Linked DNA regions of Homo sapiens: region 2 is linked to region 1. The links come from fine-mapping of genetic effects on gene expression. A gene starts in region 1. The other region holds a variant in brackets. All regions are shown on one strand. Distances are between the middles of the regions.

Evidence for each region. PIP is the estimated chance that this variant, and not a neighbour inherited with it, causes the effect.
Region 2: its variant is fine-mapped to the expression of MBNL1 in CD8 T cells (Kasela 2017, PIP 0.95). The same link has a PIP of 0.9 or more in B cells, CD4 T cells, NK cells, ileum, monocytes and monocytes after LPS.

The regions. Positions count from the first base shown.
Region 1 is chr3:152,265,437-152,273,779 of GRCh38, forward strand. MBNL1 (muscleblind like splicing regulator 1) reads left to right here and starts at 3,493. Exons shown (of 10, transcript NM_021038.5): 1 at 3,493-3,656. MBNL1-AS1 (MBNL1 antisense RNA 1) reads right to left here and starts at 4,190. Exons shown (of 2, transcript NR_027038.1): 1 at 3,992-4,190; 2 at 1-3,636. RefSeq lists enhancers at 2,696-3,538, 2,981-3,080, 3,539-4,380 and silencers at 3,271-3,330, 3,381-3,430, 3,831-3,940.
Region 2 is chr3:152,460,492-152,468,834 of GRCh38, forward strand. It overlaps MBNL1 (muscleblind like splicing regulator 1), which reads left to right. Exons shown (of 10, transcript NM_021038.5): 10 at 1,894-5,289. Among named protein-coding and RNA genes, the nearest start is that of MBNL1-AS1, 200 kb to the left of the region's middle. The variant C/T (reference allele first, on the strand shown) is at 4,297.

The sequences.
Region 1 (8,343 bases):
TTATATTGCAGAGGCAGTGAGAGCTTATTGAGCTATGAATGTGGTATGCAGAAGAAGTAAGTCACAATTCACACAGGCACTCACACACTTACATAGGTACCTTAAATATCCCCATTGGACTGAAAAAGATAAATGCTGCCATTATCTTTATCTTTATTATTGGTAAACAAGGAGCTGACATTATCTATAAAAACCATATTCCTTAACTGTATTTTTATTGAGATTCATTGGTATAATTAAAACTTGAATGGACTGAAATATTTCAGGAACCTGCAGTGAACACTCTTTCCTTTATCTGAAAATGTAGTTTATTTCATCTGAAATTGTTTTCTATAATTTCCCTCTCCACCCATAAATGACCTTCTTTTTATACTCATGGATATACTCACTTATGAACCTGTAGACTATACACTTCACAGAAATAGGAGAAACCATAATGTTCTCCTGGCACTGAGGGAATATCAATGGTATTCTAAATGAGGAACTATTAACTTTTTATTACAATAATGATTTTTTAGTAATTTCCATAGTTTGAAATGTGGTTAGGATGCTACTGGCAGTTGAAAGCTGACAACATGATTGAATAGTTTTAACATGATCTGGTGTTTGTTACAGTGCTTTAAAATTTTAAATATTATCATTCATGTTATAATGTTATCCAGTGATAGTCAATTAGGCCAAATCAGTGGTAATTTAGTGTTATATCACAATTTATTTGGACTCGAGTTATAGATTGACCATTGCTTTGTGAGTTTTCTTAGCCATTCTGTTTTTCTGTATCTAATGTAAAATAACATTTTTTCTCCTTTTTTATTTACCAGGATGGTTATTCTACTGTTTCTAACATTAAAGGATCATCCTTGTATTTCTTTGTATTCTGTCATGGAGTAAAAAACATGTCTCATCTCAGTTTCCATTTCTCTTTTGCTCCCAGAAGTCCCCCCTCCTCCAGTGTTGAAGTAGAAATATAATTTCCCCTTTTGCACCATAAGCAGGTTCAAAAGTCCTGTGTTTCACCATGTTGCTCCAAACAGCAAATTTTCTAACCCACATGAAAAAAGAACACTACAGTTCTAACTTGGAATTCTACAAGGGTTTGAGAACAATTGAAAATAAATTTCTACCACTAGGATTAGTCCTTAGTGGTTCGCAGGCATTCTAAGCAGAGGGGCATGGAAGCTAGCTAGGGCACCAACCTGCTAGCAGATGCAAAGTTTGCTCTACTAAGAAGTTAGGCCTTTAATATCACAGACAATGGGAGGCAAAATGAAGACATAAAAAGGCAAGTAGCAAGCAATTCAGTAGGCTAAGCCAGGGATTTGAGAGTCTCCCAAGGCTCCTCCCTTCCTCATTCCCTGCATGAGTCATTTTTCCAGTCTGTCCACACCCATTCACCCCTCCATCCCACACTCTCATTCACCCTCCAAGCTGCCGTCACAGGAACTTTCTGCAATACAAGTCCAGACTCCATCTCTGGCCCTTGCTGCCTAAACTTTCCTAGTTCATTAGTTTTGGCAGTAAAGTTGAGACTCGTTAGATCAACACAGACCTACTTTTAGTGTCATCTCCTGCCACTCTCCTGTACTACCCTACCCTCGCTTCTCACAGAAAGGCTGAGAAGGCTGGCAGACCCCTTGTATATACCCTGCTCCTTTCGTTTTCTTTGAGACAGGGTCTTTTAATGTCACCCAGGCTGGTCTCAAACTCCTGGCCTCAATCCTCCCTCCATGGCCTCCCAAAGTGCTGGGATTACAGGTGTGAGCCATGCCATCCAGCCTGCCCTGCTCTTTTCTCTTCTCCACCTGGACTCTACTCCCTTTTGATCTTGCCAACTTCTACACACCTTTCAAGGCACCAGTTAAATGTAAATCCTCCAGGAACCCTTCCTTTGCCATCCTCAGAGCCCTCATTGGATTGCTTCCCACATACAGCACTTATCCCTTATGCAGAATTAATCGGTTTGTCTCTCACCTACTAGAGGCGTTATCCTTGAGTGTAGGGACTGTCTTATCCATTCTTGCATCACTGGCATAGTAGGCACTAAATGTAGTTGCTGAATGCTTAATAAGAGGAATGGAAGTCTTCGTAGCTTGGGGTAGATACTAATGGGCAGATAGAAAGTTCCCATCCCTGTTCTCTGAGAAAGTGTCAGTGTTCTTTTAGTTTGCTTAAACTGTGTGGGTACTTGAGTCCTTTTAAACGATTAACGCTGGGAAGAGGCACCATTTAATTAATTAATTTGTTCTGGAAGGGATCAGTGTACAATTTTAACTCAGTGCTTTGTGGATCTAGCTAAAGGTCAAGAACTAAAGTCGGCTATTAGTGCCTCTGGAAGATATTTCTGCACTTTAGCACCTTTCTGATGTTTTTCCTTCACCTCGAGCTGGCCTCACTCTCTTCAACAAAACCGAACCTGCAGGAAGAATGTTGTACCATATCCAGCATTTTTGTCCCAACAAACATGGGACAAACGTTTTTCACTAGAATCATCCTTGAACAAGTTATCCGAATTCCTTACATTCAAAGGAAATCCTGCCCCCAGTCTCCAAAACTTCATCACATCACAGACGTTCAGGATTCTTTCCATTCAAAGCAAAGCCAAGTTACATCTTATAGCACCCAGTGAATTATGATATGGGGCTGCGGTTTATTTGCTCTGGCGACAATATGGCTTACTTGCCGTGGAATATCCCGGTATTTCAGAAGTAACATATTATTTTTAAAGAGGGAGCTTTGCTTTCTCTAAATCACATGGTGCAAAGTTGGGAATACAGTGGCCTGTAAATTACAAATATTATTTACAAACTAGAAGGAAAGCTGACATGTGTTTGTGCCTGTGTGACAGTTTCACTAAGGAATTCCAAAACTGTGGATAGCCTGTTACTTGAGAAAAATACACGGTGGCAGTCTTGCAGATGTTTTTCCCGCCTGTTAGCCCTCCAGGTTCAAAAACTGTTTGGTGCATTTTAAGGCGGCAGTCTCACCAGATCGCAGGATTCTAGTCTAATTGGCTTCTAACCTTCAATCTAACCTTGCCGGCTTCCTTGCAAAGCCCGGTGCAAGGGCCTCTTTCAAAATGAACCCACTGGTGTGCCTAGCAGTCGGTAGAAGAAGCGGGAGGGCGTCCGGTCTGCACGCCCGCCGCGAGGTTACAATGCTGAACGCATGAGATGGAAGATACCAACGGGAGGCCGAGGGGATCCACGGCGCCCGCGCGGGCTCCGGCTTCCTCCTGCTCTCGGCGCCGCTGGGCGACCGCCCATGACCCGCTCTTGCGGGCTCTGTCCGGTTGACAGGCGACCCTGTGGCCCGGGGAAGCGCGGGAGGGCGCCGGCGGAAAGTTGAAGAGCGTTTTTCTCGCCGCCGCGTGCATTAGGAGCTCGACGAGTCCGCCCTGGGCTTCCTGGTGGGGCTGGGCGGGCGGGGGAGGGGCCGCGCAGCAGCAGCGGAAGCCAGACCTCGGCGATAAGAGGCTGCACAGCGACATGCAACAGTCTTTTCACTGCAGCTGAATGAGTTGTGGCGCCCACAATGCTCCCATGACAAGGAGCTGACAAGTTCCATTTTCCGTCGCGGGCATCTTGGAATCATGACTCCCACAATGCCTTGGGCACTTGGTCGACAGTGGGGCCGCCTCTGAAAAAAAAATGTGAGAGGTAAGTTTCCATTTTCACAGTTTCCCCGCGCCGCTTCATTGTTCGGACTCCGGCGGGTCTGCCCGTGGCTGAAGGAGGAAGTGCGAGGAGGTGCTCGCCGGCCGCGGTTCTCCCGGGCAGGGGCGGGCCGCTCGCGGTAGTTGGTTTCGCGTCCCTCAGCACCTCCTGCCCGGGGGAAGGCGGGAGGGTGAGCCGCAGCCGCTCCTGCGCCCTTCCCTGCCGCGGGCTCTGCGGACGCTGTCACGGCACAGCCCGCGCACGGCTTGGCAGCCCAGCGGGACCCAGGGAGAAACAGGGGGGCGAGAAGAGAAACAGGTGCGTGCAAGTGTACTCACAACTTAATGACCTTTGTCGGGGGAAGGTGTGAGTCCCTCTGAGTCGAGCGGCGCGCGGGTCTTCCCGGCGGCTCCCGCATCCCTGGCCCCGGGGCTGCCATCCCGCCCGGTTTTCATCTGGGCCAAATATGTGCACGCAAAGGTTAATTCTCTGCTTGCTACCCATAAATTACGCATGACATGTTTAGCTGGGCTGCCTTATATGGAGAGTGCTGTATTTCAGGCCAGTTTGCCTTTTGCCAAGTTTACAGGGCGGAAGACGCCCTGTAGGAGAGGGCTGCCTCCTCCTTTTCTTCTTCTTCTTTTTTTTTTCATCGTTTTGTAGTGCGTCACTCAAAAACTGTAAGAAAAGTAAGTATAGAAGCTCTTTGGGTGGAGCCGCAGTTGGTTGAATTGCTTTCATGAAAGGTTGAAAAGAATGAAAAGTAGTTAGTACTTGGGTTCTGGTTTTTAGACAAAAGCAGGACAAATATGTAGCCACCCCCCAACTTTTTTTTTTTTTTTTAAACGGAGCCGGAATCTGTTATTGGTAGTAATGTGTCATGTGAGAATACTTTGATTCCAGAGCCTGTAACACGAGCAGGTATATGGTGGCGCTTATGCCTTCCCCTCGCACAGCACTTTACAACTACAGGGGTGTTGCTGCCAGAGTAATATTGTATTCTTAAGGCTCTCTGGGGCCGGGAGAGTATGCGGCTGTTGGGATTCTGGGGTGTATTTCCGTGGAGTATGTCTCCCCAGGATTAAAGTTAAGAAGCTGCCGGAAAGGTTGTTGCCGCTGACTTCACTTTGTGTGCCCACCAGCACAGGCACAAGTCATAGCAGATGGATGGCAAACTCTGCCATATACTCTGAGGAGTTTCTTAAATTAATACGCTAGGAGAGAAGTCATAATTAATGCTTTTAGACTTTCGAGCCCTCTGCAGCGTGCTTTGAAATACTACACCGGTGGACACTATGTCCCTTCCTCCTGGGTTTGAACACAGTGTCTGTTTATACACAGAGGGTGTTTAGTACCTAAGTATTCTATACCAGCACAAGAGAGCCACTCCACAGTTATCTCTCTGTGTGGATTCCTAAGTGTGTTGGTGTTTCTCCTTGCTGTTGAGATAAAATATTATCACCCAGAGAGAAAATGAAAGTTCAACGACTGTAAAATTTATCCCAGGAATGTGCAGTTCAATACTTAGAATGTCTTAGATGTAGTTATAGATAGAGGCACTGAATAAGTTATTTTGTAGCCTGAGAATGCACATCGCTGTCACTTGTATCTTGCTTTCTTAAAGTTGGTGACAACTAAGGCTAAACTTCTTTAGAAAACCTAATGTTCTAGTTTTTATCTGTTTTGTGTATTTGCATGGGAGTTACTTTATTATTATTATTATATTGTTAGGTCTTCTTTGAAAATGTAGGCATAGCTTTTTTAGTCTTATTTGTTTAATGGGGGGTTTCCTTGCTGAAGACTACAAAAGTTGCCTTTTGTGTTTTAAGGAACAGGTTGGGTCAGCAACAGAAAACCTGTTCATCTATAATTATAGTGTCACTTAAGACATAATAATCAGATTTCATTATTACTAAGAGACTCAGAAAAACCTCACATATGCCTAGTTTAATTTTTTTCCTTATGTAACTGTGAACAAATTTGTGTGTAGATACACATCAAGTGTGGTACTCTGCGCAGTCATGCCAAAGAGAAACTGAAGTGTTATATGGTTTGAGATATTATTGCTTGTGTTTACATTTCCACATTTGAGGCAAAGTTAGACTCCAAGTTGAATTCATTAAATTTTGATTCCAACATTCTGTTCTTCCTTTGGGCACAGAATTCCTATGAAATGAAACACTGGGTTTTGTTCCAGAACAAGAACAGACTAACCCAAAATTTCTCCTGGGGGAAAAAAAAAGAGTAAAATTATATTTCTCATTGAAAATTGTATTTCTCATTGAGGAAGGGTGTGTTACTTTATTATATAAAATGCCTTATCTTCATTATAAGAAAAAAATGCCCTTGCATTTGTCACTGTTGCCATACATTAGGCCTGTATTTGATAGATCTATATGGAAACAGAGAATAAATAATCTTGCTGCACCTTCTGGCTTTCTGCTTGGTGATAGATGTGCGGATTAGAGAACATCTCAGGTCTTGGTTAGGAGAAGCTGAAAAGAATAGGTGATTGGGTTTTTAAAATTCTGTATGCAAAGGCATTAGGGTGGGTAGTAGATATGAGAGTCAAAAGAGTGGAGGAAAGAAGTGAAATAGGTTCACGAAGTGATTGGCCCAAAATAAAATCCCATCAACCATATGGATCATAGAGAATGTGACATAGAAAGATTTTAAAGTGTATGGTTTTTTTAGGCCAAAAAGCTTCATATGTTTGGAAATCTAGAATGTGCTGTCCAGTACAGTAGCCACATGTGGCTGTTGAGCACTTGAAATGTGTCTTGTCCAGATTGAGAAGTGTAAAATACTACCGGTTTTGAAAACTTTATATGAGGGGAAGAAAGTAAAACATCTGATTAATATTTTTATATTTATGATATGTTTTAATGATAATTTTTGATATATTGGTTCTAATAGAAGATCTTACTAGATTAACTTCACCTGTTTCTTTTCTCTCTCTCTCTCTCTCTCTCTCTCTCTCTTTCATGGTGTCTAGAAAATATAACAAATGTGGCTAACATCGTATTTATTTTGGACAGTGTTGTTCTAGGATAAAGCAGGAAAACAATATTCTGGGAGAAAGCTTAAAGATTTTGCTGGTCAAAACAATAAAATTGGCTTATTTTATTATACATAGAAATACCTCGTCTTTCTTATCCATTGTAACCAAAATTTGAGAAAACACACCACCTAACATCTATTTTTATTTCCTCAAAGCTGCTATTTAGTTTAGAGATTTGATGGTGAGGTAGTAATAATAGAGAAAAACTTATAATTAGAGAATGAGTCTTAACACCTCTCAAAGGCCAAAATAGAGTATGATTGTTACTTAGGAACATTTTAGAGACACTGTAGTTATCATTGTCCTGAAGTTACCAAACATAAACGAGTCACTAAAATTATTTTAAAATAGAGATTTTAGTAAATAGCAATTATCTTCAAATACTTAATATGTGTTTTCTTTTGCTAGAACTTTCTTTAGAAAGTTAAAAAAAAAAACCCATATCCAAAGTCCTGAGCAAATGTTAATAAAAGATTGCTGCATTCATAAGAATGAAAGATTTTTACCTGCAGATAGGAGGGTATTGTTTTGAATATTAGCAAAGGTGAAAATGTGTTTCTAACGTAACATTATGGGCTCTGAAGAATTTCTATACATGGAGACACTGTCTTTATAATTTGAACACATTCTTGAGAAGGCATCTGACTGGTAAACAAAGCACAATGGCATAGGTCCTGGAAACATTCCTTTCAGATATTTTCATAACTGAAGTACATTTTGCCATTCACAGTGAGTGTTAAGCTGAAAAAAATGTGGTTCTTTTCTAGCCATATAAAGTATGCTTACTATTATTTTCTCGAAGGATGCCAAAAAATGTAAAATGGATGTTGTGGATTCTTCGTGGGGAGGTTAGCTAGTTTGTATATAGAGCCTCAAGAAGAGTTGCCTCAGCTTGGTGCCATCTTGAGTCTGTCTTCCACTAGATGAGGCATAGCTTCCATTAGTGTCAGTGCGTGTGTGGAGGGTGAGGGGAAGAATGATCCCCATTAACTTTGTATATTGTTTCTGATGAGTCATGGAGCATATTCACTAATGGTTGGAGAATTATTGATTGCAAGGCAGAGGATTCAAGAAGAGCTATTGGCATATGGCATTAACTGTCTCTAGACATATTTTTTATTTTTAAATTTGAGGTAGAGAAATCGGTTTTTACGTAGTGTTTTTCATATTATAAAAAATAAACGTTTATATAAGCATTACAGATACATCCTTGAGGAAAAAAATAGTAAATACATGGTTATAGTTTTCTACATATTACCAGTTTTTTTCATAACAGATCCAGAACATCTCTTTCAGATAATCGTTCATGTTTTTAGAGAGGCATCTCATCATATGTGCCTGTGAAATCTGTAAAAATATGTGTAACACACATCTTGAAATATTTGTGTTAGGAGAATTAAGTCTTACACATTTGGTTCTTTTTCTACTGTTTTTGATTATGTTCTCTAGGTTACTATGATTATCTTTTGTTAAAACAGTTCAGGAAATATTAATCTCAAAACGAAATGTAGCCATATTGGACAGAGTAGAGAATTGCTTTTCCACAGAGACCAGTTATTCCAAAAAGGTGAAGATGTTTCTGAAATAATATCATGCTCATATGCTCCAAAAGAAAAACCATCATCTCTT
Region 2 (8,343 bases), 200 kb after region 1:
ATTGGGAGATATACCTAATGCTAGATGACACGTTAGTGGGTGCAGCGCACCAGCATGGCACATGTATACATATGTAACTAACCTGCACAATGTGCACATGTACCCTAAAACTTAAAGTATAAAAAAAAAAACAAAAAAAAAAACCACTGTCTTAAATACTTAAAAAGGTGTCCATTTTTCATCCATAGGAATATGTTTTGTCCAGTATGCATGCATTCAAGTTATAACATGTGCTCAGATGCTTGTTATTTATTTTTATATTTAGAAAGAGACATTACATTTAAAACTGAAATTGGTTAAGATGGGTGACCATTCTTTGTTGCTTCCTTTATTTATTTATTAACATATTTACAAATGAGTTTTTGGTGCTACTTTGTGTTAGTTACCATGGCAAGGAGATAAAGGTAAATAGATAATAAGATAAAGATGTAAGGAATTTCAGGATAATATAGTAAAATAAGAGAGGTTTGAAGAAATTTCTCTTAGAGCAAAGATGAAGGAGCAGCTGTTCCCAACAGGATCCGTAAACAAATGAATGTGGACAATGAAGGTGTTGTTCTAAAGAGAATGGAGGTGTAAAGGCCTTGTAAAAGAAGGACAGTGTGCCAAGTCAGGAAACGATGATGGCTGAGAACCAACTCAGAAACCCTTGTGATGTTAATCTGTAGCAAAGCTGGACAAAGTCAAAGCCCATGCAGGAGAACAGGCAGAATTCAATAGCCATTTAAGAAAGAAATGAGAGGCTCAACTGGAGAAGTACTGCCAAAGATATGCTGCAATCGTGAATTATTAAAATTGATTTTTGTCTATTTCATAAGTTTTCTCAAAGCAGTTCTGATAAAAAGGTTCAGATTCTGAACAATAGCCACATTTGTAGAAGAAGAGGCATTACTTTGCAGTGTTGTAGGTTTAGAAGAAGAGGTTTTTTTGACATGCCAGAAAAATCTGTTTCAAGCTCTTATAGTCAATTAGGTGTGTTTGGTATGTATATATTTAACTAAATTCTGTTTCTTAGCAATAATCCAGGTTGAAAAAAATTTCTAAAAATAATTAGCAAACCAGTAGTTTTGTCTGTATTGAAGCTAAGCTTTTAATGTTCTGTTCATTTAACAAATGATTGCTCATCTTCATGAGGAGTTGCAACATTTAAACTGGTTTTTGAGTCACTAGATTATGATTTCTTTCATTTTCAAGGTTGTATTGTGAAGCATACTTTTAATATATGTAAATATTCGCTGCTGAGAACAAATTTCATGTAAAAACTGGAACTGTTAATCCACAAGTACATTGTAATGTCTATTACAGCTTAATTCATGAGTAATAATTCTGTAATTCAAAAAGAATGATTTTTATTTTCTTAGTTTTAGGTGAAAAAAGTTCAACAAACTGAATTACCCAAAGCCATCACTTAAAGTATCATTCTTTTTTTTTCAAACATGCATTATGCTAATCAAGCACCCAAAAAGAATAAATCTTGTTTAATAGAACATATTACATGAATTTTAATTTTGTAGACCAGACCTTTACTCTTGAAACCTTATTAAACTTCAGAAAAGAAGTTTAAATTTTGCCCTACAACAATTGTGCTAAAAAAGAGCTCTGTATATTAGGCCCCCTGATTCTGCAAATGTATTTTATACTTTTAGTTTAGGATTGGTAAATTTTGGAGCACATTCTACAGTTTTATTAAATTGTACGTGTTATTTCATTCGTGTAGAGATGATAGACAAATTTTGATCTGTCTACTCTTGTAAAATGGTTTTTGTTTTTATATGAAGATATAATGTAAATATACTGGTTAATCAAAAAGAAAATTTTCATATTAAATGTATATTAGAAACTGCTTTTAGATATTACCTGTTCTAACAAAGCTTATCTCTTTTTCCCTTGTAGATCATGCTAAAGAGGAAAGGACAGTGTGCTTGGTTAGAGTAAAGGACGAGGTCATTAGCCATATTGTATATATCGTCAAGCAACACACACAAAAGTTCCTCAGCCACAAGACATCCACATATTGCATGTTAACCAGAAGAAAAGACAACATTTTCCGGAAATCCACTGCACACTGTTGCCTATACACTTTGTACATTTAATTGATATTTGTGCTGAGGTGATATTCCTGTCTAAAAGAACAACATTGTCTTTCTTTTCTAGCACAGAGTTATGCATTCAAAGATGCATACCTAGTTAGTTTCCTATATATTCATGCCATCTTGAAAAGACAGACTATGGTGTAACCATGATTCTATTATGTATTGGTACGTCTGTAGACCAAGATATAATTTTTTAAAAATAAGTTTATTTCTTTCAAGGTTTACAAATAACAAAGGTGCACCTTGTATTTAAAATTGCCATTATAGATGAGAGCGTGCATGCACAGTCATTTTTGTTTAAGAGTAATATTTTTAATGTAATAGATTGTAAGACGTGGTGAGGGAGGGATCTGACAGAGATGAATGTGCCAAGCAAAACCACAACTGTGTATATTTTAAAGCACATCATGGCTTTAAGTACCATGTTGTTAAGGATTCTCATGAAGTGCCATAGACTGTACATCAAATTAGAGTATTATTTCTTCAGTGTTATTGTTTTCAGAGCCACATTTTGTTGCATATTTGCTAGTACTAATCAGTCAAAGGGCACCATTCTTTTTTTTTTTTTTTGAAACCAAAGCTGTCTCAGAAATGGCCAATTTAACTTTACAGTAACAATAGACAGCACAACACAAACTCTCTCAATACAGATAAACTCACACATACTGGAGATATATATATAATAGATATATATAAAATTATTTTAATGCATTGTAGTGTAATATTTATGCATACTATACTGTATAACATGTTATTCAAAAGGGATTGCCATTTCTGAGACACAGTAACAAAAAAATGAGGAAATTATTTTGCTTCTATTTATAGCCTCTGTCAAAAGTCAAAAGACTATAAATGCTTTGCAAAAATGGTTTCACGTTTGCTTAAATGCTTCATCACAGTCACATTCAAAATAGTGACTCTAAACAAAGAAGAAAGCAGCACTGTCATCAGATGCATGATAAACCAAAATATGAAAATGGGAAATGTTTAATTAACCTAGTAATTGGGTGGGTTAAGTACATGGGTGAATTTTATATGTGATTTTTGTTTTGTTTTGTTTTGTTCAGATTAACTGCTTATAGCCTTAGAAAGCCTTTTACAAAATTAAAAAAAAAATAGATGTGCATTCAGTTTTTAAGAATGGAATCATCCAAAGGAATTCCTTTTTTTGAGGTTTGGATGTTGCAGCTAGTAAAGGATATTTTTGCTCTGTTCAGCAGTTCTAAAAATTGCTGAAGTAGGGGCCAGGTCACTGGTAGTTATAGTATGGAATGGGAGAAGTGAAAGTTCAGTTATAGAACTTTCCATACTTCCAAGTTTACTGCAAGTTTTTATGCTTGAGAGAGATGCTTTCTAATATAAGACTGATGTGTTGATTTTACTGATTGTACTGTACATCTATTAAAGCCTTAGATTATTACATTACGGGTTGGAACCCATACCAATGTAATTTCAATCGTGTTAAGAAAGTAATGGTGACTTCACATGTTATTGTAGTTAGTTACATTATAGAATATTACTTATTTTTCTTGTTAAAATGTAGTTTTTCATTTCCTACATTTATTAGATTTTCATTTTCTATTAACAATTGAATACCATTTCAGTTTATAGACTTGTTTTATTAGATTTTACCAATGAATTTTTCAAAATACAAAAAAAAGTAGTTTTTCCTTCATAACATACTCAGTTTTGAATTACATGTAGTGTCACATGAATATTCGTATTGTTAACTAAATGATTTATATTTTACTGATTTAATATTACAGTGTAAGAATGTCAGTCATTGTTAGTTCTTGTCTAGTTTTCATTAAAAGAACAAAGATCTTTTATATGGATATCTTATAAATATATAATCATTGCTAAGTAAGAAGTTAAGTTGTTGCTATCGCAACAATCCTGGCAGACAATTGAGTAATATTTTGATGATTTATTTTGTTTGTAATTAGTTATTATAAGAAGATCTAGATCCTAGATATTAGAATAAAATTTATTTTCTACTGTATCCATTTCAAATGTTAAAATATTGTTTAATATTTTTGAAATCCCTGAGTATCAGGCCTTGTTATAAATAAGCTGCATAATCAATAAATAGAACAAGGGACTTTTTGTTGATAATCCAAATACTCAAAGTTTACGTAATGAAAATTATAGCGTGTGTGCAAACTCTTGAGGGTTGATTATGCTGCAATTTAGCATGTTGGAA[C/T]GTCTAGGGAGAAGGTTGACTTTTTGCACTTCTGTATATAGTCAAAAGAGAGAAACCTGTATAATAGTAAGATCTTATTTTGAATAAAAACGTCTATAATTACAAGGAGTTTTGTTAAGGCTAATACAATGACAGACTGAGCAAAATTGCTTGCAAAAGTGGCACAGAGTTAGCACTCCATACCCCTTCAAACATGTTGCTTTGCTTTCTTGTGGACAGCTTGTAGTTTGCCAGGATTTTTTCAGCTGGAAAGATACGCCATCCTTTCAAACCCTCATGACTGACAAAAACTCCATGGGGCCAAATCTGCCTGAAGATCATTACCAAAAATAGCAGGTACTTCTACCATTAAGGTGAAATCATGGATCAGATATTCCTTACATTTTTCAAAACTACTGCATGTTTAAAACTTCAACAAAAAAAGAGAGAAAGAACTATACTAAGAACATATATTATTCAGATCAGTTTCTGCCAATTTCAGTGGTTTATTGTTCACAAAAAAATCTTCAAAACAAGTATTGACTTTCACAAAATTTAAATCATAAACAGGCAAACCAAACAGCACACTGTAGCTATAGTTGTTATGTGATTGTTTTTTAATTGCTGTAGGATCCTGTTCTTTCAGCAGGTGAAAAATAAAACGCAGTTCAAATTTCATGGTTTTAATTTTCAACTCAGAAGCACTCAAAAATGCAAAATGTGATAATGGGCACTTGTTTAAAAGAATTAGTGTATCCAGCCTTCACTCCAGCTGGTTAAAAATGTTGCACTTATCAGCAACCCTACCACTTTCATCTGCTGAAAGGACAAATGTGCTTGGTTTTACTATTATGTAATCACAACTTACTTTCTGCTTGTAGTTGCTTAAAATTATGTATTTTGTCTTGGGCTGCAATTTGTTTTATGCTTATTTTATTATTACTGCAGTAGTTGACTTTGCTGTATGGAAAAATAAAGTGAAATTGCCCTAATAAAACTTCTCTTTCTTAAGTATATTCGTGTATCTGAGATTGAATACTAAATTATTTTTGCGTGTTTCATGTATTCATGCATATGTATCTATCTTTACAAACATATTGATGTATAAATTTGTTACCTGGTTTTAACTGATTGCAACTGCGAGGAAGGCATTTGTTGTCTTTCTCACTAATTATCCTTTGACACTGAGAGGGAGAATCTAAATCAGCATATATTGCCCTCCTGTGCCCAATGTTTTCTGAAATTCTTGCCTTCCCCTGTCTGACACTTTAAGCGCTGATTGAAATAGTTTTAAGTGTCAGGGCAAAAAACGGTAAGAAAAAAATTATTATACATTATAGATCACTATCTATCTTTTATTAAAGAAATCTTATTTGCCTGACTGCTGCGTCAGCTGATTAGGACTGGAAATCAGGCAATCCAAGAGAGGTGATGGCACTGTATTCAGAGGGATGAAAGAAATTATGCATATGATCTATGAGGCAGGCCATGATATTACTCCTGAGGGGTGTGTGTGTGTGTGTGTGTGTGAATGTCTTAAACGGTGGGTTAAAAACTTTGTTGAAGTGGGGCCTGGCATCACATATAAGCTTTGCAGTTTCTACAGATAGCCAGTGAATGCCAAAGTTTCAACATGAAGAACGTGCACATTGTATCATTTAGTTCTACTTTATGCTGACTGCCACTTGGTATTTGGTCAAGAGTTACAAATGCTCATTTGTAGGTTGATGCCTTTTTTTCTAAAATTTATTGTGATAAAAATAGGTGCATTATTCATAATCAATACAGTTCTGTTACTGGTTGAGTTCTAAAGGACAATTCTGTTATTTTCAGTAGGTCCAACTGTTCTGGGTGCCACTTGTCAAAAAGAATGGCTGCCCTGAAGATGATTGTCTAAAGCAGGAGTTCACAGCCTTTTTTGAGTAATATCAAGACATCTGGCTCTTTCCAGTTAGTGATATTTTGGAAATCTTTTCATTGAAAAAATGCATAACTAAAAGTCCTTGTAACTTTTGCAATACTTTAAATGAAACTGTATTTTGTTAATCACAACAGCATATACATGCATCTGAAAAATTATTTTCAGAAGAGTTATTATTACAACGCCCACTAGGAGTCCTCAGCTCACAGAATGGGACTCTGTTAGAAGTCATTCGTTTTTCATTTGGAGAACAAAATCGTTTGCTAGAGCTATTACTTCATCACATACCCTTGGTACTCATGGAATTTAAACTTTGAAATGATACTAAAGGTCAGTGATGTAGCAATCTATTATTTCACTGAGACATACTTTTGAATGCCTGTATGAATGCTTTCATACAGGAAGTAGTCACTAAAGCACTGGGGAGACATTGCAGTGGTCGAGGAACGGCTCAAAAATCAGAACACCTGGAATCACGTCGCAGCTCCCTGACCTTGGCAAATTACTTCTCTGACTCAGTTTCCACTTTAATAAAATAAGTACGAGAATATAAATACTGCACCATTATTGAGTGGTTTCCAGACTTTGCTGCAAACTGGAATTGTCGGGGGGATTTTTTTTTTTTTTTTTTTTTTTTTTTTTTTTGAGACAGTCTTGCTCTGTGGCCCCGGCTGGAGTGCAGTGGCGCGATCTTGGCTCACTCCAAGTTCCGCCTCCCAGGTTCACGCCATTCTCCCGCCTCAGCCTCCCGAGTAGCTGGGACTACAGGCGCCTGCCACCACGCCCGGCTAATTTTTTGTATTTTTAGTAGAGATGGGGTTTCGATACTTTTAAAATAAAACTCAATAAAAGTATCGATACTTTTAAAAGATCCCCCAGATAACTGGTTCCTACCTGCACACATTCTGGTTTAATGACTATGGAGGAAAGAACTGGGTTAATATATAAAAAGAGCTTAGAAAGTTGCTTGGTTTATAGCAAGTAATTGATACATGTTAACTATGATTGCTATTTTATCAATTTTAAAAATCACTCCACTTATTCTTCAACTTTTTATCCTGATTCTTCGATTACACATCCCTTTCAAAGTAGCCAGGTACACACACTCTCTCATTTATATTATCTGTAATTTTATCTTTCATGTTTAGCAATGAAACTATCTTGTAATTTACCACCACCACAAGACCTGCTGTTACTTCATTTATACTATTTCAAAAACAGAATCAAGTACATTTTTATTAACTCTGAAAATTTTGTATAATTCTTATTTCAATTTGATATGGTCAATCTGAAAATTTTGTATAGTTCTTACTTCAATTTGATATGGTCACAGACAACACCTAGCCCATTTAGACCCAATATGAAAGTAACCATTTAGGCATATCTAAGCTTAACTCTTTGAATCCCCCTTCAAATATTTTAACTGTGTTCAAGATCAAGTAATAGAATGAATGCATTATGAAAATGATACCATTAAATAATGTATTTTAAATATTTTTATTGTATTTATCAAAATAATACTTCTAGTAACATTTCAGTGACACTAGTATATTTCCATAACATGTTTCATCATAGGTTTATTTTGAATGCTTAAATTAGTACTATTTCAACTTAAACATATTAGAATCTGGTTATATACTGTACAGGATGCTAGGCTCTGAGATACAAGGATCAATGGCAAGAACCTTACAGTGTAATGACTAAAACAAAATATGTAGAGTATGTAATTCCATCTGTATAGACACTCATCTAGTATTTCCCTCCTCCCTCACTAGTCCGAATCTCTTTATACCACAAAATAATTTAGAATAAAATTAAATAAAAACTACATTCTCTTCTGGAATACAATGATACAACTCCCCTACTTACTGTCTAACTCACTTTATCCTTAAAAATTAACTTGAATATTGAAAAAATATTTTTGAATAAACATGTTCATTGCAGCATTTTTATAATGGCAAAATCCTGGTCTCAATACTTAGGAAATGTTTCAATACTTAGGAAATAAGTAAAGTATCATACAGTGTTATATATTTATAAAGCATTTTTTCAAAAATGAGTTAATCACATAGGAAAGTAATTTTAGTGGTAAGATAATAGGAGACTTTAATTGGCTTTTCAGAGATTTCTAGTTTAGTAAATATTCA